Linked DNA regions of Homo sapiens: region 2 is linked to region 1. Evidence: fine-mapped expression QTL. A gene starts in region 1. The other region holds a variant in brackets. All regions are shown on one strand. Distances are from middle to middle.

Region 1 (12,154 bases):
CTGGCACTACCCTCCTACTCCCCACTCTGCCCTACCAGGCATGTGCCTGGAACATGGAGGCTGGAGGTGGCTAGGGCTGGAGGGAGAAAAGGAAGACCTAGGGGAGGCAGTCAGGGTAGACGGGAAGCTAGGAGCCAGGCTGGAGCCTAGAGTGACAAGTCATACCTCCTTCCCCCCACCATCTTTTTCTTCTGTTTTCCCCCTCTAACAGTAACCCTGGCAACAGTTCCCCTGACTGAGGAGGCGGTTACCATAGCAACCTGCTCCCGACTTTCTCACCCGCTCTCTCCAAGTCCCCCCTCAGAATCGCCCCACCCACTTCCAACCCCTCCCCATGTCAGGGAAAAAAAACTCCAAAACAACCAGGGCGAGGCTTGCTGTGGCAGTGAGAAGCTGAGAAAGAGCTGGAGGGTCTGGTAGGAACTCATGTGTTCTAGCTTCCCCATTCTGCCTCAAAGGCAAAGGGGTCCCTCACTTCAACTCCCCACCACCCCACTAATGACTCATTTTGGATAGATGCCTAGTTGCTTGGTCTGATGGTTCCTTGGCCCCACCATGCTAGCCTTGTATTCAGTCATTAGGGTTCGAGGTGGGGGAAGCAATGGACCACCCCCACCTTTGTGGAGCCCATTTTCTCCTTTGATGGTTACCAGGCCCCCACTCAGCTCTCTCTCCTACCCTTTGTGCTGTGCCTGCAGCCCCCGTGCCCAAGAATACCAAGCAACTGGCTCTGGCCCCCTGCCCAGTTCCCAGGCTGGCTGGGTGGTGGGGGGAGGGGACTTTAGATGCGGCTTTGGGAGAATGGCAAAAGGGGACTGCCCCCCCTTCTCGTATCGTATCAACATCCTACTGGCACTACCTTCAGCATGGTCTGATGAGATCAGCAAGGCCAGATCTCACCTAGGCTTTCACCCTATCCCTCTTTCATGATCCTTAGGTGAGAAGTAGAGAACATTCAAGGCCTTCCTTCCACTAAGATAGGAACTGTGGCTAAGACAGAAGAAAGAAGGTCAGATGTTTGAATGGACTTTCTGGATTTGATAAAATGTGACACTAGTGGTAAGCTCAAAAATGGAACTTATTTCCACAATGAGTATCTATTTCCTTTTAGTCAGAAAAGTAAAGCATGTTTTAAAAAGTAAATTGTATCATAAACACTCTGTATGCGACTAGACCAAGGGGTGGGCAAGCAGCAAGATGACCTTGTCCCTGACGGAGGCTGCCTGCAAATCACCCCAGCATTAGGCTGGGAATGTGGCAGATCAAAGGGGCTTGGTTGACACATTCACATTTTCCTTCTTGCTCTACTGCAGGGGAACTGAGATTGGCATGGTGGTCACAAAATAAGAGATACAGACCCAGAAGTCCCCATTCCCAGCCCCCTACCTGGACCAGAATAAACAAGCCTCCCTTGGTGGCAGGCACCATGACACAGGCAGACAATGAGCCAGACAGGAGGGCTACCATGACCCCCGCAAGAAACAGGCAGTCATAGGCATGCTCAGTTGCACACCCAGGTGCAACCAGACAGAAGGGCCCAGCAGTGGCCCTGCCAGGCCGGGCCAGGAACAATGCTCTCTGACTGTCAGCACCAGGAACTGTCTCTGCCTTGAAATCTAGGTCACAGCAGCAAGCTCTGGAGCCCAACCCCCCTCACTTCACTGATAATCCAAGGACAGAAGGAGGGGGGTACGGGTGAGGGGGATGATGGGGAGGGGACTAGAGATGGAGATAAGAATGAGTAGGGGGGCATGAGTACAACTGGAAGGGAAAGCGCAGCAGGAGACAAGAAGACCCTGCCCCAGTGGAGGAAACTCTGGGGCCAAGCCCTCAGCTGGAAAAGGGGGCAGGATTGGGGGTTATACTTCCCTGCTTTCATATGGAAGGAGAGTTTGTAAATATTACAGATCCTGCGGGAGGAAAGAGTGCATCTGTGTGTGTGTCTGTGTGTGTGTGTGTGTGTGTGTGTCGGGAGGAGTTCAGATTTAGGGCTTTGAATCTAAAACAGATCTACAGAGGAGGTAGGCGGGAAGAGATTAATGTGTGTAACACACTCACCCACAAAGACTTGGGGGCAGTGGGTAGGAGCTTTCTAAGAGAGTGAAAGATACAAGGAGGCCCCTAAGAGAGATGGGGGTAGGAATGTTAAAGTGGCAGAGGAGAAATGTGTGTGTGCTCGGATCTTATGGATGCTAATCCCCGGGTTGTGGGCACAGCTCTGGAGGAGGCAGTGGCTGGGTATCTGTGGGTGTGTTTGGATGTTCTGGTAATGGAGGTGTATGTGCCAGCACTGGATATATGGCTGTGGGTGCACTGGCTGTGAGTATCTGTCATGTGTGTGTTTGTATGTGTCTAAACCAGCCAAGAGCATGTGTAAGAAGGCATATAACCACAGGCTCACATCCAGAGGGGTGAGGGGAGCCTACAGAATGGAGAAAGAGAGCTGGAGTTGGGAGACAGAAAGAGACTAAGGCTGCAAATGAGGCATGGGGGGCGAGGGGGAGGAGAGCATACAGTCCACAACTATAGAAGGCTGTAGCCTCATCTCATCTGTTACTATAGCAACCTCAGTTCTGGGTGCCCCCCACCCCCAGTCGTTAGGATGACACCACTAGATGGGAGGAGTGTAGGGAATGGTGAGTAAGAAGGGACAGAAAGGATAGGAATAAGGCCCCCTGACGGTACAAGGAAAGGCAGCCCAGTTGCCTCCCTTCTTGGAGAGATCCATTTGCCTAGGCCTTAGTATGGCAGAAGAAGCAAAGGGAGTGTTGTTTAGGGGAACTGCTCTCAATTCTCACTGATCAACAGTTGTACCTGGGCTGGTCTGGCCTGGCCATGGTGGGGCTTGGCAGAGCTTGTTTCCTTCATCCTCCATGTCACTTTCCTCACCAGAGATTCAGATTTCCTTAGGGCTCGTGGAGAAATCTGCTCTCTGGGCTCTGAAAAATCCTCCTGATTTCTGGAGCAGTGCAGAGAGCTGCTCAGGGATCACCAGGCAGTCTGGGCGGAGGCCATTCTTGGGACAGGATACCAGGGCAGGAATCAGGAACCGGAGCCCCGGCTGCCAGGAAGTCAGTCCTCTTCCCTCCCAGCTTTCTGTGCTAGGCTCACCGCTTCCTCACACCTTCCTTCCTTCCTGCCTCCCTCTCCTTCCAAGCTGGCCCCAGGCACAGCCCTGACAAAGGTCAAACCAACTGAGGATGCTGGGGAAGAGGGGCAGGAGGTAAGGACCATTATATACTGACCTTTTAGGGTGGGACAGGTGGGAGCTCCATGGGCACTGGGGTAAGAAGAGCCAGGCCCTGGGAGTGCTTTGAGAAGCCTGGCAATTGGGATAACCACCTGTGGAGGAGGTGGCAGCACCAAAAGAATTTCTGTGCATTTTGACATTAAGTCGTGGTAGATTATCCCTTCTAACGTTTGGTTCCAAATCCTCTGTAAATTCGAGAAGGAAGCCTGAAGATTAAGAGTTGCTGCCCGTCCCTCTTCCACATCTGTTGCAGCTGCCTAAGCCTGAGGGGAGGGGCCATCCCAGACAGCTGCAAGGACCTAGAGGTCCCTGTATTGGGCAGGAGGGGACTCCCAGGCACTCAAGTCTGTCAGTCTTCTGCCTGAAGTTGGAAGTAATCACGGAGAGGCAGAGGGGTTGGAAGGGAGAGAGTAGGGGTCCAGCTTTCCTATTTTAAATTATAACTGGGCCCCAAATTCAAGCAGTCCTGTAGTTTATTTCCTTTAATATCATTCTCAATTAATTTCTTCTTTAAGCTTTTTATCCAGCTTTGTGGGGGAGGAGGGGGTTGTCTTTACTCCTGTAACAAGGAAATTGAGGGTTCTGAGGCTCCAGGGTCAGCCTGGAAGTGACGAGAGGCAGGACATCTGGGCCCTAAAATGTTCACTTCAGTCCAAGAAGCAAAATGGATTACCTTTGGGCATGGGGACAAGGATTAGCCTTCAGCCCTTGGTCTAGAAAGAGCCAGACCCAAGATGGGGCATCAGGAGATAGCTGGCACTGGATCAGGCAGAGCAGAGGAGGGCCGGCTGATGGCGAGGAGGGGAATGGGGCCTAGGACTCTCCCCAGCCCATCTCTGTTTCCACTCTTCTGGTGTGGCACTCCCTGCTTCTATTTCTGTCTCTCTCCATCTCTCTCACTCTTTGTCATGCATTTCCTTTCTACTTCATCTTTCAGTCTCTCTTTTCCTCCTTTCTATAGGCTTTCACCCCTTCTAGCATTTCCTACTCACCTATCCAACTTAGTGGTAGCCATGAATACTTAGGACTCCTGAGATCTGTGCTTCACTGTCCCCATCTGAATATTCGGAGCTGCAATTAGGAAGGGGTGAGCATCCCTGCTACAAAAGACAGAGTAAGTTTGGTCGGAGTGGCTTGGAGATTCAGTGGTTGGCTGCCTACCAGCTGGTGAAGATATCCATCATGACATTGTGCGTGAGGATCTGTGTGAGAGAGTGAGGCGCTCTGTGATTCTGTGACCCTCTTCATGCATGATAATACATCCACACATGATGGGCACGGAATTGAGGAAGTAGGCAACCAGGGAAGCCTGCAGCCTAGGGCATCACTGGCAATTTCCCCAATGGAGTATTTAACCACAAAGGGAAGAGCAATTAAAGCTAATCGCTCTGACAGCCTGGGGCCCAGACACACGTACCACTTTCCCTAACTCCCAGTGGTCTCCCCCAACCTTCATCCTCCCTAATTTGTTTAGTGCACTCTCAAACACTGTTTGCACTTCTCTGACCATCTCTTTCTCTCACTTCCTCCCTCTCCCTGGTTCCCTGACTATCTCTAGACCTCTCTGGAGATGTCTGTCTGCTTCTCACACACATTCCTCTCATTCTCTCTCTGACTTGGGTTCCATTCTTGGCTGACTCATACCCATTCTTTTTCCTCTCCGTTTCTTCCACCCCCTCCTCCTCCATCCCTTGGCCACTCTTACCCAGAAACTAGCCACTCCCAGCACGCTAAGCCCTAACTGGACCCAGGAAGAGAAGCCACCAGAAGCCCCTACCCTCATTAGTCCGCAAAATCCTGTCTCCTTGTGTTAGAGGAATGAGACCAAGATTTTCTCCCATCTTTCCCCACAGTTTTAAAGAGGAACAATCTGAAACCATGGGGCTGGGAAAAGCTGCCAGAAAATCAGGATGGATTTGGGGACAGTGGCCCTTTCTGTCCACTCAGCTGTCCTGTCGGACTGATGACTTGGAGCCCGCAGTTCAGAAGACTCCTCATGGGATGCCCCACCCCACAGAGTGGGGGTGTGGTGGGCGGCCGGATGCGTAGTCCAGGGACGTTTGTGATTTGGAGTGTGCTAGACTATGTGTATAAGTCACATGGGTGTGTGTCACTGTGTGTGCTGGCGTGCCTTATAGGTGTGCGTGTTTCCCTGTCAGTTTTGACACGGATTATATGAAATTAATAAGGGTTTTTACGTTAGATATACATCACTTCTCTACACCCCCAGCTCCTCCTTCCCTCTGGACAAGCTTTCCGCCAAGCCCACCTCTTCCCCAGGTGCAGTGAGCTGGGGGTGAGGGCACATGGTACCAGCCGCCCGCGGAACCGAGACAGGGCTGGGCCGGGAGACCGCCAGCGGAGGCGAGTCCGAAGCCTGAGCGGGGAGGGAGGGGCGGGCGCTGGCCTGGCCGAGCCGGCTGGGCGGGAAGCAGGCTGCATCCTAATCCACAGGCCCCGGTCCGACTCCCAAACTGCCGTTCAGCGTGGAACGGGCTGGCCGGAGCCACGCCGCCTCCAGCACACGCTCGGCGCTCGGGACGCACCGACCGAGGGACGGACCCCGTGAGGCCTGACACAAAGTGGACTCGTCCGGGGTCCCCACACTCCCCGTCTGGCCCCCGGTGTCCCAGATCGTTGCCCCTCCAAGCCTAGACCCCGAAATCTGCCCCTTCCCCGCGACATGTCTCCTCTCCGCCCCTCTCACCGCCTCTGGAGCTGAGCGCTCAGGGCGCGGGCACTCCTGAGTCCCCGGTTCCTAAGCAGCGTCCGGAACCTCCTCCTCGGCTCCCGCCGCCGCCGCCGCCGCTTCTGCCGCCGCCGCCGCCTCTTCCGCCCGCGGAGCCGGAGCCCGAGCCCAGCGCCGCTCACTCCACCCGGCTGGCCGGTGATGTCAGAGCCGGGGAGGGGCGGGGGGCGGGGAATGGCGGGAGGAGGGGGAGGGATGGAGAGGCAGGAGGGGGCGGGGGACCGAGGGGCTGGGGTTCTGGAAGACTCCTAGGATGGGGGACAGAATTGGGCGGAGGGCTGGAGCGGAGACGGTCTCTTCCCCCTGAACTGCGAAACAATTCTCATATTTAATTCTTACCCAGTAGGGCACCCTCCTCCCCTTTTGACCTTTGGATGACCACGGTGCCTAGGACCCCTGGGAGGCACAGAGTAGGTTTGGTTTAGGGGGTTGGAAAGCCTTTGGGGGCTGGATTCTCTTAGCTGCTGGCTTTAATATTTGTAAAAACTTCTTGCCTTGCCTTAAGGGTCAGGGGCGCAGTGGAAAATGACTGATCAGACTTATCCACATTGGGAGTGAGGGGTTGGGGCCACATGGGGACTTGAGGAGCCCTGGATCTTCTCTTTCCAGGATGATGCCTTCAGGCCCTCTTGCGTGCCTCTCACCTTTCCCAAACATGCCCCACTCCTGCCTTCCCCCTACCATGATGTAATTTTATTTTCTGGGGAGAAAAAGAGCAGCAGTGAGCTCAGCATGCAAATATAGACAACTTGCAAAGCCACACTTAGCTCCATCTCCTAGCTCTGCCCCTCTGCCCAGGCCCAATGTGGCAGCTCTCACTTCCCCTCTACCCCAGGGACTTTCCTCCCCCAGATTCTCAGCCAGACTGAAAAGAGGAAAGGAAGAATTGGAGAAGCATCTGTTTTCACCCCCATCTCTATAGCCTAAGGGGTCTTGCCTCAGCTCTGGGCAGGGTTTGGCCCTGGAAAGAAGTCTGACCCTGGGTAGGTCCTTCCTGCCAGGAACTCCAGCAGGCCCAGGTTGGGGGATTCCCCTCAGTGTTTGTGCCACTTCCAGGATCACCCATCTCATCTCAGTTCCTACCTGGCAGAGACTCCTCCAGAAACCTCAAACGAGCCCCTCCTTTCTTGGGTCTACACCATTCCTAGAAGAGGCCCAAGTTCCTGCTGCTCTGGGTTTCATAGCATTTCTCTGCTGTTTCCTCTCCCCAGCATTCCCTGTCACACACTAATCATTTGCCTTTGTATATATCATGTTTGCTCTGTGTTGTAGGGACAAAAACTATTTCGTTGACCCATCTTTGAGACTCATGTAGTTTCTAAGTGAAAGGCTCAGGTCTGGAGGCAACAAGACACAGGGGCCTTGGGCTGCGTGCTAGTTCCACCCATTCCTTGGGCAAGTTATGCCTGAAAGCCTTAGTGTCCTCACCGGTCAGATCAGGGTGCCAATGTCTATTTCTGAGGGTTCTTCTGAGATTCAGAAATAGTAAGTCTCTAGGGACTGGCACAGATGGGTGCTTAAAAAATAGGAGCTATTATTTAGACCGGGGCCTTCCACTGACCTATGCTAGACAGTAAGCTCCACAATATTATTGTAAGACTAGCTTAGTGCCCATACTACTTATTAAACATTTATTAAATAGCTACAAGTTGGAATGAATACATAGTTTCTGCTTTCTACACCCCTGCCACATTCTCTAGGAACACTTCCTGGACTTGTCTGTGGAGAGTGAAAATATATCTAATCTCAGGTCTCATCTTTCCGTACTTAGAAATCCTCTAAGTCTCTCAGCAACAACTTTACACCTGATCCATGAAAAATATAATGTTGGCTTGGCGTGGTGGCTCACGCCTGTAATCCCAGCACTTTGGGAGGCTGAGGCAGGTGGATCACCTGAGGTCAGGAGTTCAAGACTAGCCTGACCAACATGGTGAAACCCCATCTCTACTAAAACTACAAAAAAGTTAGCTGAGTGTGGTGGTGGGCACCTGTAGTCCCAGTTACCTGGGAGGCTGAGATAGGAGAATCTCTTGAACCCGGGAGTCGGAGGTTGCAGTGAACCGAGATCTCACCACTGCACTCCAACCTGGCAACAGAGTGAGACTCCATCTCAAAAAAAAAAAAAAAAAAGAAAAAAATATATATATATACACACACATATATATGTATATGTATATATATATAATGTTTATTATTTATGGGCATCATCTCAAAAATATATATATAATGTTTATTATTTATGGGCTTGTTTAGCTATTTGTATATATTATATATATAAAATGTTTATTGTTCATGGGCATCATCTCAAAACTATATATGTATATGTTTATTATTTATGGGCTTATTTAGCTATTTGGCCCTCCCATCCCCAACTCCCTAAACTCCTTTTTGCTTACCCCAGCCTGGGCCTATTCTGGAAAGACTGTGGGTCCTTCTTGCCAAGACCTCCAGCAGGCCCAGGTCTGGGAGATCCCCATTGTATACAATATCTCCTCTCCATTCCCATGGCCACCACTTGGGTCCATGTTCTCCCAACATCACTCCAATTATTATAACAGTCACTGATTATGGGTTGGGCCCCTTACCTCTGGCATCTCCATCATCTCCCCTCCCCATCCTGCTTATCGCTACCAGATTAAATTTTGCCCTGCCTCCTCGGCTGGCAGGATTCAATTCAAACAGCTCTACAACCCAGCCCCATTATGCTTACCCAACTTCATGGCCACAACTTGATTTTTCTTCTTGTCTCTCTGGTCTCTGTGCCCCCAATATGACAAACATATCCTGCCAGTACTTGATGTTTTCCACTGACTGAAATGTCTCCTCCTCAGCTCCTTTGTCTCCAACCAAATCCCATTCTTCAATTTAAGGCCTAGTAAAGGCTTACTTCCTTTGTGAAGTCATCAAGCCCACTCTGATCTCTCTTCTGAGTTCATTCTGTTCTTTCCTTTGTTCTTCCTTTAGGAAACATTTACTAGGGACAACTTTTGAGTGTCAGACCCTGTGGACACAAAGAAAAAGCTTGGGTTCCTGCCTTCAAGGGGCTCACAGTTGAGTGGGGAAGACAGACACGTAAATGAAGAACAATAACAGACTGTGCTGAGTACTGGAATGGAAGTGCAGCAGGAACTCAGAAGAGGTCATCACTGGAGGGGCCACCTCTGGGAAGGCTTCACCAAGGAAGTATAATTGGAGCTCTGTCTTGATGTTCAAATAAGAGCTGCAGAGAGGGTGCTATCGAGCAGCACATAATCACTTAATTACATATTGCTTTGTATTCTTCTTCGATTGTTTAGTATGCTTGTCTTGACTTCTCCGTGAGGCTAATCAGCTCAAGATCAGGGACAGGCCTAGCACTCTCTGTTCTCCCAGAGCCTAACAGTGGCCCTGGACAAACACCATGTGTTCAGAAAAGGCTTGTTGACTTGAAGCAGATTAACAATCCAGGCTTCTCTGGGAAAGCTGCCTGGAGGAACCCCAGTCCCCACTATAAGAGTCCCCCAGCTCATCCCTAGCAAGGCACCCACATCTGAATTCCCCATCAGTGGCCACCTCCTCCTGCCATAGGGGTGAGACTTCACCAAAATACACTTGTTCATGCTGCCCCAGATGTCTTTATTGAGGCCTCTCATTTGACCCAAATACATTAACAAGTGATTGCTGAGATACAGTCCCAAACACAGTATTCTCCCTTCCTTCTGGCCAAGGACAGGACAGTCAGAAAGATACAGGATTAGAGAGAGTGGGGGAAAGCTGTGCATAGATGGAGGGAACAGAACAGAGATGGGGCCCATATATATGGCTAGAGGAGAATCACAAGAAAGAGTATGGAGAGTGATGGAAGAGACACATAATAGATACAAGTAAGTTATGGGATAAGAAACAGAAGTCAGATAAGAGAGAGCTGGCCTGGTGTCTAGGGAAAAGTAGCTCATTTGCTCATCAAATGAGGGGGATCAGTGTCTCAGCACCCAGCATATAGACCCCAGTTAGCTCTATGGCAGAGAATAACCTAGTCTCCCTGGAGGAACTCAGGGAAGGACAAGGGAAGGCAGGAGAGAGCATGAAAAGACCAGTGGGGCTGAAAGATGGTTGCCATAGCAACTAGTCATCATCATCATCGTCATCGTCCTCTGTGTTGATCTCGCCCTCCAGGACATCCTCCAGCCAGTCCTCCAGCTCCTCAGCAGAAGGCAGGTCCTCCTCATCGTCCATTTCCATCCATACGCTATCCGCCTAGGAGATGGCACAGGCAGGGACGGAAGCTAAGTCCAACCCGGGTCTTAGGATCTGTCTTCCCACTCACTGGACTCTGTACATCCTTCCCTACATTCTCAGTCCCTTCCTTTCATCTGCCAAAGGCCAGGGAAACTGTCCAGGTGAAGGTATGGGTTATGGGTTAGAATAGTGACAGGTGAGAGTGGGAAGAAAAGTTGGATTGGCAAATAGACCTTCTCCCTTCAATCTGTCTCCCGTGCTCTTGCCACACTGAACTTCCCTATTATGCCTTTGGTGCAAAACCACTGGTAGCTCTTCATGGCTTATAAGAATAAAGTTAGCAACTCTTCGGCATTCAGGACATTTCTTTCTTTCTTTCTTTTCTAAAAGAGACATGGTCTCACTCTATTGCCCGGGCTGAAGCGCAGAGGGGCAGTCATGGCTCACTGCAGCCTTGAACACCTGGCCTCAAGTGATTCTCCCACCTTGGCCTCCCAAAATGCTGGGATTACAGGCCTGAGCCACTACCCTGGCCCCAGGGCTTTTCATAACCTGCTTTTCTAGTACCATTCTCAGTGATCTCTAGACTCTCAACCATAAAAATCCACCTGCCTTTTCCGGGAACCTGATATTCATTTTCCTGTTTTTAACTTTTGATCTTGCTTTTTCCTCAGTTTGGAAATGACTTCCCTGAATCATCACTTGTTGAAATCGTATACATTGTAGAATCTCCATTTTGAATATCACTTTTTCTTAAACTTTTCTCTGATTCTGTCAAGCAGAAATCAATGTGATCCTGTGTCTTATTTGTATCGTTATTATAAAGTTTATCAGATCTGGCCTTGTAGTTAATGGAACACTTGCCTCTCTAATTAGTCTGAGAATTCTATGAAAGCAGAGACTGTGGCTCATTCAGTTCAACTTAGCAGTTTTGAAGCACCTACTGTGTGTGCATAAGAAGACTTCTGCCCTGAACAAGCTCAAAAATCTACTGGAAGAGACACACATAATACATAAATAGCCATTTAAATGTCATGTTCTCAATGGCTATTGAGCCCTGGGAGTGCCAGGGAGGGAATGATTTTAAATGGGAGATCTGGAAAGACTTCACAGAGGAGAAAGAATTTGAACTGGGCCTTGAAGGATGAGCCACTGATTCCAACATGTGGGACAGGGCCACATTCAGATCCTAAGTCTCCCCCTCCATCCAGCCACTAGACTGGGCATGTCTGCGTCCTGTGAGAAGGGCCCAACTCCTAGTTAGCAGAGAGGAGGAGAGCTAGCTATGCTAGGAAGTAGAGTCGGGGGTCAACCCGGGATGAGGACAGGAAACTCACATCAGTAACATTGACGACTCCTATTTGTGGGGCTGACAAGTCGATGTCAAACGTCTTCTCCCAGTATGGGACCAGCTGTAGAGAGATCAAAATACAGCAACTTAATAGATACTAGGGAGCACATGAATCCAGGAGGATGAGTGTGAGGGTCAGCCCAGGGATGGAGAGGGGACAGTGCGAACTGGCAGTGGATGGGGACAGGTCCACCTGTGAGGGCATCAAGGCAAGGGTAGAACTAAACAACAAAAGAGGAGAAATCCTAAAGGGAGAGAATCGGGAGGGTCAGCTGGGTGCACTGGCCCCTCTTTTCTGAGGAAAACTGGATAGGAAACCCTGTTCTGATCCTGGATCAGATCCTTGTGTTCAAGGTCAAGTCACTTCTCTCTGGCCCTCAGATCTTACATTTCTAAAATAAGGCAAGTATACCTGGTAAGTGCCAATGTTTCTCACGTTTCTCTTTGTTCTTTCAGTTACTCATTCAACAGCGAGTGCTAGGTGTTGGGAATGTAGCTGAGAACAAAATCATCTCCTGAAACAGGGAATCTCTGTGCTATGATTCTATGATTGAGTGTGTATACCCATGTGCAGGACTATTGTGCC
Region 2 (12,154 bases), 90 kb after region 1:
TACTGTTCATGTGACCTTGGGAAGTTACTCTCCCTCTCTGAGTCTCCTTTGTTTAATAAACAGGTCTGCAATACCTATCTCAAAGGGTTGTTGTAAAGATTAGAGAAATGTATGTAACGCATCTATCACAATGTCACATATGTAGCAGGGGCCCAGCAAATCACTGTAACCACAGGAATGGGCTGTCAGCCCATGTGCATCAGCTGTCAGCTCTGTGGAAGGCTGTGTGCAACTGAAGTTGCTTGGGGTATAGGGAAGGGCCCTGCCTGGAGGCCCTCTGGGGCCTGGGTCATAGGGAGTCCTGGCTTCTAGGGTATACAGGGAGAGAGCTTTGGGCTAGGATGCAGGGGATCCAAATTCTAGTTCTGGCTGTGCCACCAACTAGCTGCATGTCCTTGGGCCAGTCCTTGTTTCTGGGCCTCAGTTTCCTCATCTGTAAAGAAGGCTGGATTACAGTTTTAAGGCTCCTGCCACCTTGATGCTGCATGGTTTTCTTGCCTCTTTTGTTCCTTCCCTAGAAGCCCCTCCACTCACCTTGGACAGGTCCACTTGGTATTTGCGGCCCAGCTCATCCAAGGACAGCTTGTGGTCATCCTGGGGAAGGGAGGGTGAGTTACTTTGGGGAGGAGGTATCTAAGATGCATATGAGGGTACTGCAGGGCACAGGGGTGAGTTGAGCAGCATGGGGGACACGGAGTTTCTCTGAGTGCAATGGGCTGCAGGGACAGCTCTCCCAGCATGGGGCCCCTCCTCCATGGCCCAGCAGTTCCCTCACCATTGCCACCTCCTTCTTCAGCTCATCCAGTTCCTTCTCCTTCTGTTTCTTCTTGCCGCCCCCATTCTCTGCCGTGGTGGCGGCAGGTGAGTACTCACGGCCAGCCTGAGGGAGGAAGGGAGAGCCAGAGAGTCAGGGAAGAGAGGGGCTGGGGCCTCCATTCCCACCACTCAGCCAGGGAGCCCAGGCAGTGGGGGTGTGTGTTCAAAAGCAGCGGCTGCCTTGGGGGAGATAGGGGGGATGGAGGGTGAGGGACCCTAGGCCCTCAGTTTGTAGACTATTGGCAGAACCAGGGGCTCCCATGTGAGTTTCAGAGAAGGGTGAGGGGCTCAGGACTGAAAAGCACCACTTGAGTGGTTTAATGCTTGGGCTTCTGCTAAGATTTTGTTTGTTGAAAGGACCCTGCTGCTAAATACAAAACAAAACAAAAATTTTGAAAACCTGTATCCTACACTATTTGGGAAAATTCTGGAAGGGAGTGGACAGGGTTTTGTGGGGGGTTGTTGAGGGAGTAGAATCACTCTGTAGGAATGTCTTAGCCCAACACCATGGCAATTTTACTTAGAGAGGGGTAGAAATACTCAGGAACTTGGGGGAGCAAGAGTCTTTGGGGAGCCAGGGGATTAGGCAGGAACGTGTCCAGAGGAGAGCCAGGTCTGGTGGTGGAATGGTAGGGATGGAAAGAGCAGGCCTGATGGACTGAGAGGAGGCAGTAGCTGGAGAGTCAGGGCATGTCCAGGAAGTGGAGACATGGGGTGTGCTGGGAGCCCTCTCCATCCTGCTGGGCAGGCCTGCCCGTTACTAGACGGGAGGCAACTCACAGGACTGGACCCCCAAAGCACAATTGGGTAACATGGGAACTGAGCCCCATTTGTCCCAAAACATAAGAAATTGTATCTGAGAGTAAATCTAAAACTACATTTTATATAGTTTTTAAGTCTAGACATTCCTGGGTCATCTGGTGAATCAGATGGCCTTTTTTTTTTTCTTGAGACAGGGTCTCACTCTGTCACCCAGGATGGAATGCAGTGTGCAATTTCAGCTCACTGCACCCTCCGCTTCTAGGGCTCAAGCAATACTCCCACCTCAGCCTCTCAAGTAGCTGGGGCCACAAGCATGCACCACCACGCTCAGCTAATTTAAAACAATTTTCTTTCTTTCTTTCTTTTTTTTTTTTTTTTTTAGATATAAGGTCTCACTATATTGCCTGGGCTCAAGTGATCCTCCCACCTTGGCCTCCCAGAATGCTGGGATTATAGGTGTGAGCCACTGCGCCTGAGCAGATGGACATTTTAATTGTAGTCTTATGAGGCTCCTGATTTCCCTTCCACTCCAGGGCCTGTGGGCTCACCACTACCAGCCTTCCAGGGTCTCACAGGGAACTTCTTGGGGACAGGGTGGGAAATCTTTCCTTCTAAGAGGAGGCCCTCTTGGGGTGATAGAATAGGATAGAGGCTGAGGAAGGCCTGGGTAGCCATGAAAAGTTCCCAAAAAGGTACCTTCTTACTTCCTCTTCTGCCCCAGTCTTCTCTCCTCCCACTTCCCTCAGGAAATAGAGTCCTTGTCATAGAGGGGCTGCTCAGTTTCCACCTGGTGCCTATTTCTCCACTGGATTCTGCAAAGTCTGCACTAGGCTTTCAGGAATTAGTTTTCCCACACTATGATGTTAACTTTTGTTTCCCATAAAGAGTGGATACCTGGGTAGGGTCCACAGCCAAGGTGTTTGCTTTTTTTTTTTTTTTTTTTTTTTTTTTGCAGGATAATGCAGTTTTGGGGGTTTTGTTTGCATTTTAAAAAATATACTTTTTTTGGAGCAATTTTCTGGTTCACAGCAAAATTGAGTGGGAAGTAGAGAAAGTTCTCATATATCTCCTGCCCCCACACATGCACAGCCTCACCCACTATCAACACCCTGCATCAGAGTGTTACATTTGCTGCAATCATGAACCTGCATTGATACATCTTTATCGTCCAAAGCCCATAGTTTAAGTTTGAGTTCACTCTTGGTGTACATTCTATGGGTTTGGGCAAATGTATACTGACGTGTATCCGCCATTGTGGTATCATATGGAATAGCTTCACTGCCCTAAGACTTTTGTGCTCCAGGGTAATGCCTTTTTTACTTATCAGAGTCAGGAGCAATCCCAGAAGTATGGCAGCTGCCTTGTTCATAAGAGGTCGCCAATTCAGCATCTTGAGAGGTAGAAGTCTGACCAGTACAATCAGAAGCAAGGGTAGGGGTGGGGGATGCAAGGAGAAGTCAACACTGTTGTTCCCAAGATACCAATGATTTAAAAAGATATGAGCTTTTGGAGGCTGTGTTGCTCAGAAGTGCTCTTCTCAGAAAAGGTGACCAGTAAAATCGTGGGTTTGTCTCCACCTGAAGCATCTATGAATCTGGTATAATTTTGGCCTCCTAAAGGCAGATCTTCTTGGGGAGACCGAGCAGCCCAATGGAAGGGGTGGGGAAAGGCTTGTGAGTGGTTCTGCCTCTGCCTTTCTCAGGTGACCTAAGAGGATTCATTTAATTGAGTGGATTGAAATGCTTTACATTCACTAACTGTCTGTGGTGGGACAGAGCTGAGAAAAGGAAGAAATGCAATCAAGGGAACAGAGGCAAGAGATCAGGCTGGCTGAGCTTCAGTGTGACCCTCAGGAACTTCAGGGACAGAAGGGGGCCCAGGCATACACAGAGGAGCAGGGCTGGGTCTGTGGGCAGAAGAGCAGGGTGCAGAGGAATTTCTGTATATTCAGATGTGAAATAAATTTCATAAAAATTGGAATAAAATGCATGCTTTTTAAAAACTTGCTGGTCCATGCACTTTGGCATGCTGGATTGTGGCTGAGCTAAGCAGCTCCACGCAGTGCCTCCTTTTCCCAAGCTCCCGCCCTGCTCTCCAGCAGGCTTAGAGCTTGAGACACACTGCCCCTTCCCCCTCCTCCTGTCCTGGCAAAGATCTCAGGCTCTGCAGCCAGGAGCCTGCAGAGATTTGGGGCCAGCGGCTGCCCAGGCAAGAAAGAAAGAGAGGAAGCAAGGACCCCCCCAACCTCCCTCCACTCCTCCCTCCCCCAACCACAAGTCCCCCTCTCTGGGTCTTGAATGCTGAAGGAGAACAGAGAGTCCTTTTTGAGAAAGCCAGAGGCTGGGACAGAGTGGGGGCAGCTGGGAATCCGCCAACGCTCCCCCCATCTCAGCCTCTCCGTGGTAGCTGGAGCAGGCTGGGCTCCCTCCCACCAGTGTCGTCCCTTCCCCCAACTCCCACGCTGCCCTTCACAGCCACTGGGTAATGGGGGGACAGTGAAGCCTGCCTCTGCAGTGGAGATGCAGGGGAGAAGGGATTGGAGGAAAAATCATCCCTAGAACAGGTTGTGGGTGTCAGATGCCTTCCCTCTTCAGGGGTCGTTGGTAGGTTGAACTCTAAGCTCCAGGCCCTAAATACCCCCACCTCACCCAGCCTCTTAGTTTAAACAGCCCAGATCTGCTCCTCATCTTGCTATTGCATCACCCACAGCAACTTAGGATGGTGATTAAGGGGAGTTTGGGGGTGCTAGGGGAAAAAGACAGACTGGAAAAGTCAAGGTCTCATCACTTCCCAAGCAAGACCTCCTGAGCTGGGTCTACCTTGCTCTAAGATGGAGCAGGGTAGGGGGCTACCTCCCCTCCTTCTCTCTTCACTTGGATGGGGGAAATGGAGGGCTTATCTGATCCTTTAACCCCTGCCTCTTCTCAGAGGTCCTGCATCTCAGCTAGGGATGCCCTTTCCATGGGGAGCCAGAGATGTCAAGATGCAGCTGAAGGTCCCAAGACAGTATATCTTCCTGCAGCTATGACCTCTTCCTCCGTGAAGCCCATACCTCACAGCTCCTAAGGGCAGGCTCACAGACTCTCAAGCACCCCCACACAGTGACATTTATGCTTGTGCAGGCTTGAAGGCTTGTACATTTACAAATTTGCCTGCTGAGACACAAACACAGGTACTCATCCATGAGTAACTGCAGGACTCCCCGCCTATGGAGAACACGTGGTCAAGGACACACACTCACACACACACAGACACAGACACACAGATACATGCATGCACTCCAATTCTATTTATGGCTCCAACCCTAGCTCAGGAACCCTGGTGTCCAGGCTCAGGATTTCCCAGCTGCTCAACTAGGTGCAATAACATGTCCTTGCCTGACTCCTCCTGGGCCCAGAAACACCCACGGCTCCCCCTAGGCACAGTCTTCCTCATACCCTCCTGTTCCGCAGCATGCCCTTTCCCTCTGTGTCCTCTTTTGCCAGTATTCCACAAAAGGAAAGCAGCCAGGCACAGCATGTAAAAGGATTGGGCCACTCTTCTCCATATGGGAATTTCATTTCCAAGAATTCAAAGCCCTCTCCCTGCCCGCCCCATTGTTGTTAATCTTCCTCTTGGTGTAGCCATTGCTGCAGAATGCCATGGACGGGTGGACTGGGGGGGGGGTCACCTGTCACCAGCCTCTGGGAAAGTCCTCAAAGCCCATGGCTTGGAACCCACGGACAATGCTGCTCGGGACATCCGGAGGGGTGCTGGGGTGGGGGCTGGGTCATCATTCTTCCTCCCCACACCCCGCCCAGCTGTCCTTGGCACTCAGGGCCCCTGGAGCTGGTGTCCGGAACTACTTGGTGACTCTGGGAGCCGGATGCTCTACTGCCCCTCTCTAACCTCAAAATGGACCCCCAGCCTCTCAGGCTAGGACTCCCAGAGGAATGGATATTTTCAGGAGGTGGCAAAGACAGGAGGACTCACAGTGCCAAACATCCTTTCAGCTGGGAGGCCGGGAGATGCAGTGAGAGGAGGGACTGCTGCAGGGAAGGACTAGAGATGTGGGAGTGGGGTGGAGGGAGAGATGGAGGGGGCATGTGTGGTGGGCTGTGGGTCTAACTGTGGGCAGGGGGCTGGGGCGTGCAGAGGAGAGGAGAGCACTAGGGTATGTGACCGCCGTGGGATCTGTACACACATTGGTAGTTTGGAGACTGTTAGTTTCAAGTTCCAAGTATCCCACTCAGCTCCTCTCTCCCGCTCCTTCCACATCCCATTCCCACTTCATCCTTCCTCAGCAGCCTCCCTCACCCTCTAGACTGCGACCCCTGCTCTTTAGGGATACTCACCCCACGGCCCATCTTGGGGCAGAGTGGCTGAGGGACCTTAGCGGGAGAGGTCACCAGGAGGATCCCAAGCCCACACCAGCCCGTCTGGGACAGTCGGAGACCCTGGCAGACAGAGAAAGCCAAAGCAACAGGGTAGCTTTAAATAGGTCCTTCTCCCCCTCTCCCCCGCCTTCCCCTCCTCCGAAAGAAAC[GTTTGTTGAAACA/A]GGATCCCTGAGGACTCCTCCCCTCCCGCCCCTTTAGCCACTGGCCCTAGACAGCCCGTTTGTCCCACGGCATGCCCCCCCTTGGCTCCTCTCAACCCCCTCTGGCCTGTGGCACTCACAACTGAGAGAGGCTGCAAGGGAAGGGGGCCTGGGTCCCAGGTTGGGGGGATATGCCCCCTTGGATCTGGCTGAAGGGGAGCAGTTGACTCAGAATCCCAGGATGACAGAGACCATGTGGCCTAACTCTTCTTTTCCAAGTGGGTAAACTGAGGCTCAGAGAGATTAAACAATTTGAATTGATAAGACAGAGCCAGAACTCAGGTCTCCCGAGTCTACATCCAATCTCCCAGAGAAAGAAAGAAACATAGACCACTCTGTTCCTTCTATTATAGAGGTTGCAGGGACACTGAAGCCCAGAAATAGAATTTGAACCGAAGGCTGACCTCTGCACTTGAGGCACCTGGAAGGGGGGCCCAGGAGGAGTCAAAGGTGGCTCGGGAGGCAGCGGGAAGTTTGGAGATGGAGGCAAGAGGGTGTCCCCAAACCCTGCCAGATGTAACCTCTCCAAAGTTTTGAAGGAGAATCAAGACTCTGGTAGGGAGGGGCAGGCCAGGGCTAGAGGGGAACGGGTGGGACTCCTAGCAGGCACCTGATGACATCTCTGGGTTTTGTTTACCCCTCGTTTACCGTTTCATTGCTGTTGAAGAGCTCTAGACTGAATCTATGCCTGAGTAGAGTAGTGATAGGGAGAAGTCAAAAGAGAGGAAAATACAGAACCTCTAAGATGTGTGTGAAGGTCAATATCATAGCAAATATCAGACATGTGAACGGGAAAGGAGAGCGACTGTTTCCTTCTTCCAGTGGGGAAGGGGAAGCAAAGCTGCAGCATGCAGGACTGAGGCTGGAGAACAGGCCTCTCTGCAGTGAAGTGGGGGAGATTGGAAATGTCTGAGGAGTGAGGATGCCCATCAGAGTCAGGAGCAATCCCAGAAATGCCTAAGGCTTTGCCTGGGGCTGGAAAGGGTATCTTTAACCTTATACCAGCTAGAAACTGGGGACAACGAGATGACCCAGGACAGGACCAGCTGGTCTAGGGGTGTTGTTGCTGCTCATTTGATGAGTAATCCAAAGGATGAGGGGCACAGAGAGGAAGGGGAACCCAGAAGGGGCAGAGAGAAAAGAAAAAATTCTGCTCCCGCCTTCTACTGGGAACAGTCAGAGGACAGGATTCCCCTGGAGTACCCCTGTTTCTCTGGGCACAGAGATGGAGTGAGGGGAAGCCAGCGGAGTGGGGCAGGTCTAAGTGTCCTGAGTGCAAAGAAAGCAGAGAGGAAGGGAGGGAGGGAAGGGGGGCTTTGGCCAGAGGCCTAAGGTGCCTGCTGGCTGGGCTGGGTCCATCTCTGGCCCCAGAGGGAACTCCCTGCAGAGGGATTATCAGCCTCTCCTCTAGCAAATCCACTCTCAGGGCACAAGGCTAACATCTGAATTCCCTAAATAACTGGCCCCCTCCGGGCCTGCAGTTGAGATTTTCCATTACAGGGACCTGGTAGGTCACATCTCACTTCCACGCTCCTTCCCTCTCTGGGTTACAGTCAGAAAGGGTGGGTAGGATGGGGCCAACAGGGCCTTCTCATGGCCCCCCTCTCCGAGCTCAGATTTGGTCTTGGGAGAGAATGGGCAGAGGGAGGAAACAATGAAGGGAACAGATACCAGTTCAGCCCCTGTGTGTTAAGGAGAGAGTGAGAGGGGAGTAGCGGGAAAGCCTGTGGTTAGACACCAGGAGAGACTGTCTAAAGCAAAGTCACTCCAGAGTGGCCCCGAGGCAGCTAGGGAGATCAACATTGGGGCAGGCTTGCCTGGGGGCTGTGGGAACAACATGATAAATTGGGGTTTAGGAAGCGCCTGTTCCGTAGGTTCCTGGGTTGGAATTCCTGGGTAATCTTCTGCCCAGCCCTCTCCAGAACACAACCTGAGATAGGAGAGAAAACGTCAGTCCCCGAATCTGAAGGTGTGCAAACCTCAAGCACTCTAACAGTTTTCATCCCACCCCTCACCCCTGCTGGCACCTCCCAGTACTGCCCAGTCCTTCCAAAGGCCCTGGCTCTGGTCCCTGTGGCCAAACTCAATACCGGAAAGGATGTGCCCTTCCTCTGCCCCTACAGCCTGCTGGGGCTCCCTGCCATGCCCTGCATTTGGGCGAGAGCACAGCCCGAGGGGCGCTGCTGCTCACATATTTAGGGCTCAGAGAAATCAAAGAGTGGGCAGGACACCCAGGGCCTATACTTCCACCGTGCATCACTGACCACCCTCCTTGCCCAGTGAGAGCTGAGGCTCTGGAGTGGTCTACCTCCTTCTTGTCCACCATGAACCTCAGCCTCCAGGATATTAACAGGTGTAGACACCTGATCGTTTGATCTGGAGTGCCTGGGTTGGGCTACTGTTTCTTCAGACACAGTCAGCAGTACCAGTTTGGATCAAGGCCCTTGGAGTAAGAGGAGCAAAGGAGAGAGAAAGAAAGACTTGAAAGCAGGAGGATGGAAGGCCAAGATGCCTGGGCTGGGGAGTGGGCTGAGAAAGTCACAGATCAGGAGGGGGATCCACCAAGGGCAAAGTGGGGATGGAGTGGTCCTGAATCAAATATTTGGTTGGTAAGAAGTGTGTGTGTGTGTGTGTGTGTGTGTGTGTGTGTGTGTGTGTGACAGAGAGAGAGAGAGAGAGAGAGAGAGACCAAGACAGTTGGAGAGAGACAGGAGTGTGCATGTGCCTGTGTACAGATGTGTGCTAGTTAATGACTGGGAGGACCTGAGCGTTGGGTCCTGTGTGAGGTATGAGACGGAGTGGTGGTACCAAACCACATTCCAAAGGAGGAGCTCCTCAGGGGAGAGGACAACACTCATTCGGATGTGTGGCCAATCTGCTATGAATCGGTTGTCTGTATGCAAGCATGAGTACAGAGGTGCGTGTGAGTCCGTGAGTGCGCATCGCTTCTCGGCCTTTTGGCTAAGATCAAGTGTGGAGTCCGTGTGTGCGTGCATGTGGGCCATTGGGGAGCTCATGTGAAGCCGGGTGTGGGTGTACGTGAGAGTCCATGGGAGAATGTGTGTGTGCACAGGGAGGGGGTGGGGACGCTGCTCAGCTGCAGATGGGCTTTCAAGGTCTCCAAGAAACAGTTTTGTTTCCTAAGTGACTGGCCTCCTGGGGCCTCCAGCCCAGACTTGAAGGTTGTTTCAAGATCATGAAAGAGAGAGAGGAGGAGGGAGAGTGGGAGGGAAGGAAGAGCTGGGAGGCTCTATCACCCCCATCGTCCCTCCTCCCGCCCCGGCACCCCACTTCTCTCCCCCAGTCCTGATTTGGGCCCAGCTCTCCAGCCCTGCTCCTCTGGTCCTCCTCTCGGCTGCCAACCCCCCTCTGGGCATCTCTCCTTCTTCTCCTTCTTCCATTCCCTCTAACTCTCCTTTCTTTTTTTCTTTAGGGCCTGTGGTCTTGTCACTGCTATCAGGCTTCTGAGGTCTTCTGGGAGTGTGGGTGGAGTTTTTCTGCTTCCAAAGGGAGCCCACCTTGGGGGATGAGATGAGGGGAGCCGGGAAGGCCTGGACTGGCCATGACAAGTGTCCAAGAAAGATGACTTCTCACTCTCCCTGCCTCTCCAGCCCTCTGTCCTCCCACTCCCTCAGGTTATAGTGACCTGTTAAAAGGTTGGGATCAGCCAGGTGGGGTGGCTTATGCCTGTAATCCCAGCACTTTAGGAGGCCGAGGTGGGCGGATCATGAAGTCAGGAGTTTGAGACCATCCTGGCCAACATGGTGAAACCCCGTCTCTACTAAAAATATAAAAATTAGCTGGGAGTGGTGGCACATGCCTGTAATCCCAGCTACTCGGGGGGCTGAGGCAGAAGAATCGCTTGAACCAGGGAGTCGGAGGTTGTAGTGAGCCGAGATCGTGCCAGTGCACTCCAGCCTGGCGACAGAGCGAGACTCCGTCTCAAAAATAAATAAATAAATAAATAAATAAATAAATAAATAAATAAATAAAAAGGTTGGGCTCAGAGCCCCAGAGTGGCTGTCCAAGTCCTGCTGCTGTGTCAGTTTCCTCACTGGACTACAAGGATGGTGTTGAATTTTCTCCCCATCTCTCCTTTAACATCTGCTCCTCCGTTTTCTTTTTGGTCTTTCTTTTATTTTTATCTTATTTTTTTTCTTTATCTGTTAAACCATTCCTTCAACATGGTCTTTCTTTTCAGTCTACTCAAAGTAGATTCTAAAAATCTCTGCTGGCTGGGCGCGGTGGCTCATGCCTGTTTTCCCAGCACTTTGGGAGGCTGAGGTGGGTAGATCACCTGAGTCCATGAGTTCAAGACCAGCCTGGGCAACATGGTGAAACCTGTCTCTAATAAAAATACGAAAAAATTAGCTGAGCGTGGTGGCATGCACCTGTAGTCTTAGCTACTCATAAGGCTGAAGTGGGAGAATCACCTGAGCCCAGGGAGGTTGAGAGGCTGCAGTGAGCCAAGATTGCACCACTGTACTCCAGCCTGGGCAATCGAAGTGAGACCCTGTCTCAAAAACAACAACAACAACAACAACAACAAACAAAAAACAATAAACAGACAAAAAAAAACAATTCTTCTTCTCTCTCCCTTAAAAAAAAAGGACAGATTCTCACTCTGTCACCCAGGCTGGAGTACAGCGGCATGATCAACTGCAGCCTCGACCTCCTGGGCTCAAGCCGTCATCCTGCCTCAGCCTCCAGAGTTGTGCATCCATTGGCATGCGCCACCACACCCAGCTGGTTCTGTCATTTTAATCTCTCCCCAGAGTATTTTTATTATCCTCTTTATTGTTAAAACCACACTGTATAGAATTTAGAAAATAGGATGTAAAAGCACCCAGAAGCATTTTCCCCAGCCTCTGCCTGTGCTGCATTCCCACCTCCTTTCGTTCTTACTTCTCTCTGGATTCAGATAGCTCCATGTTGTGTTCTGCCTGTGCCTTCTTCACGTGGAAGTCCCAAGGGAGAAAAAGGAAAGGACCCATGGTGTAGCCCAGGGAACCCATGTCAACCCTTCCCAGGAGCATGAAGGCCTGGGCTATTCTGTGCCTCTGCTTTCCCTCCTGTCCTCTCACAGTCCCCACCGTGGTCCAATGCAATGGACTCTTGCCTGAAAGTCAAGTCAGCTGAGGCTAGTCCTGCTGAAGCCACTAACCACCTGTGTGATGTTGGACAAGAGGCTTCTCTACTCTGACCTTGGCATCTTCATCTGAATGACAAGGAACGGGATGAGAAAATCTGTGAGTAATTCCAGCACTTTGGGAGGCACGAGGTCAGGAGATTGAGACCATCCTGGCTAATGCGTGAAACTCCATCTCTACTAAAAATACACATGCACACAAAATTAGCTGGGCGTGGTGGCAGACACCTGTAGTCCCAGCTACTCAGGAGGCTGAGGCAGGAGAATGGCTTGATCCTGGGAGGTGCAGGTTGCAGTGAGCTGAGGTTGCGCCACTGCACTCCAGCCTGGGTGACAGAGCGAGACTCTGTCTCAAAAAAAGAAAAAAAAAAGAAAATCTCTGAGGTCCCTCTCCAGTTCTGATGATCCCCAAATTCCAGGCTATTTCTGCCTCAGCGCACAGCTCAGCTCAGGTAAACAGCAGGAGTTACCTGCAGGTTGTACCTGTGTGAGAACCATCAGTTGGAGACCTGGGTTCAGAAGGAGATCCAAGAGGGTAGGTTGTCCTGTCTTGTTTGTGAGCATGGAGGCAGGTGCTCCTATTTTGTTTATTATTATGACTCATAGAAATGAATCGAATCCCTTTAACTCTTGGCATGGAAAAAAGGAAGGGCTCCGGTTTGAGCAAAGGCTACCCTGGGTTCTTACAGAGCACCGCTGTGAGAGGTGGGACAGGGTCTGGGTATCTTTGGGGGAGGAAGGCAGGGCTGGTGGTGAGACTGGGAAAACCTGACATCTCTTGGCTGGTATCTGATCAGCAAATACCAGGGGAGTCTGTTTGCAAAGATTCTTTGGGCTGGGAAAAGTGTGTT

Alleles and levels. Positions count from the first base shown, and alleles are read on the strand shown. Sizes are in standard deviations (SD) of each study's normalised expression.
In carriers of allele A in region 2, the expression in tibial nerve of the gene that starts at base 6,096 in region 1 tends to be higher than with GTTTGTTGAAACA alone (small effect, 0.31 SD a copy in GTEx).

What was found.
Region 2: its variant is fine-mapped to the expression of PEA15 in tibial nerve (GTEx, PIP above 0.99).

The regions. Positions count from the first base shown.
Region 1 is chr1:160,199,326-160,211,479 of GRCh38, reverse strand. PEA15 (proliferation and apoptosis adaptor protein 15) reads right to left here and starts at 6,096. Exons shown (of 4, transcript NM_003768.5): 1 at 5,958-6,096. CASQ1 (calsequestrin 1) reads right to left here. Exons shown (of 11, transcript NM_001231.5): 10 at 11,555-11,629; 11 at 9,594-10,235. The coding sequence ends at 10,104. PEA15-AS1 (PEA15 antisense RNA 1) reads left to right here and starts at 2,611. Exons shown (of 5, transcript NR_123725.1): 1 at 2,611-2,636; 2 at 3,093-3,223; 3 at 5,104-6,142; 4 at 6,346-6,409; 5 at 8,964-9,281. RefSeq lists enhancers at 725-1,391, 6,391-6,440, 6,791-6,890 and a silencer at 5,981-6,240.
Region 2 is chr1:160,109,632-160,121,785 of GRCh38, reverse strand. It overlaps ATP1A2 (ATPase Na+/K+ transporting subunit alpha 2), which reads right to left and starts at 6,027. Exons shown (of 23, transcript NM_000702.4): 1 at 5,913-6,027; 2 at 776-880; 3 at 535-594. The coding sequence starts at 5,924. RefSeq lists enhancers at 5,753-6,536, 7,289-7,907, 8,528-9,147, 9,148-9,767, 11,516-12,037. The variant GTTTGTTGAAACA/A (reference allele first, on the strand shown) is at 6,104.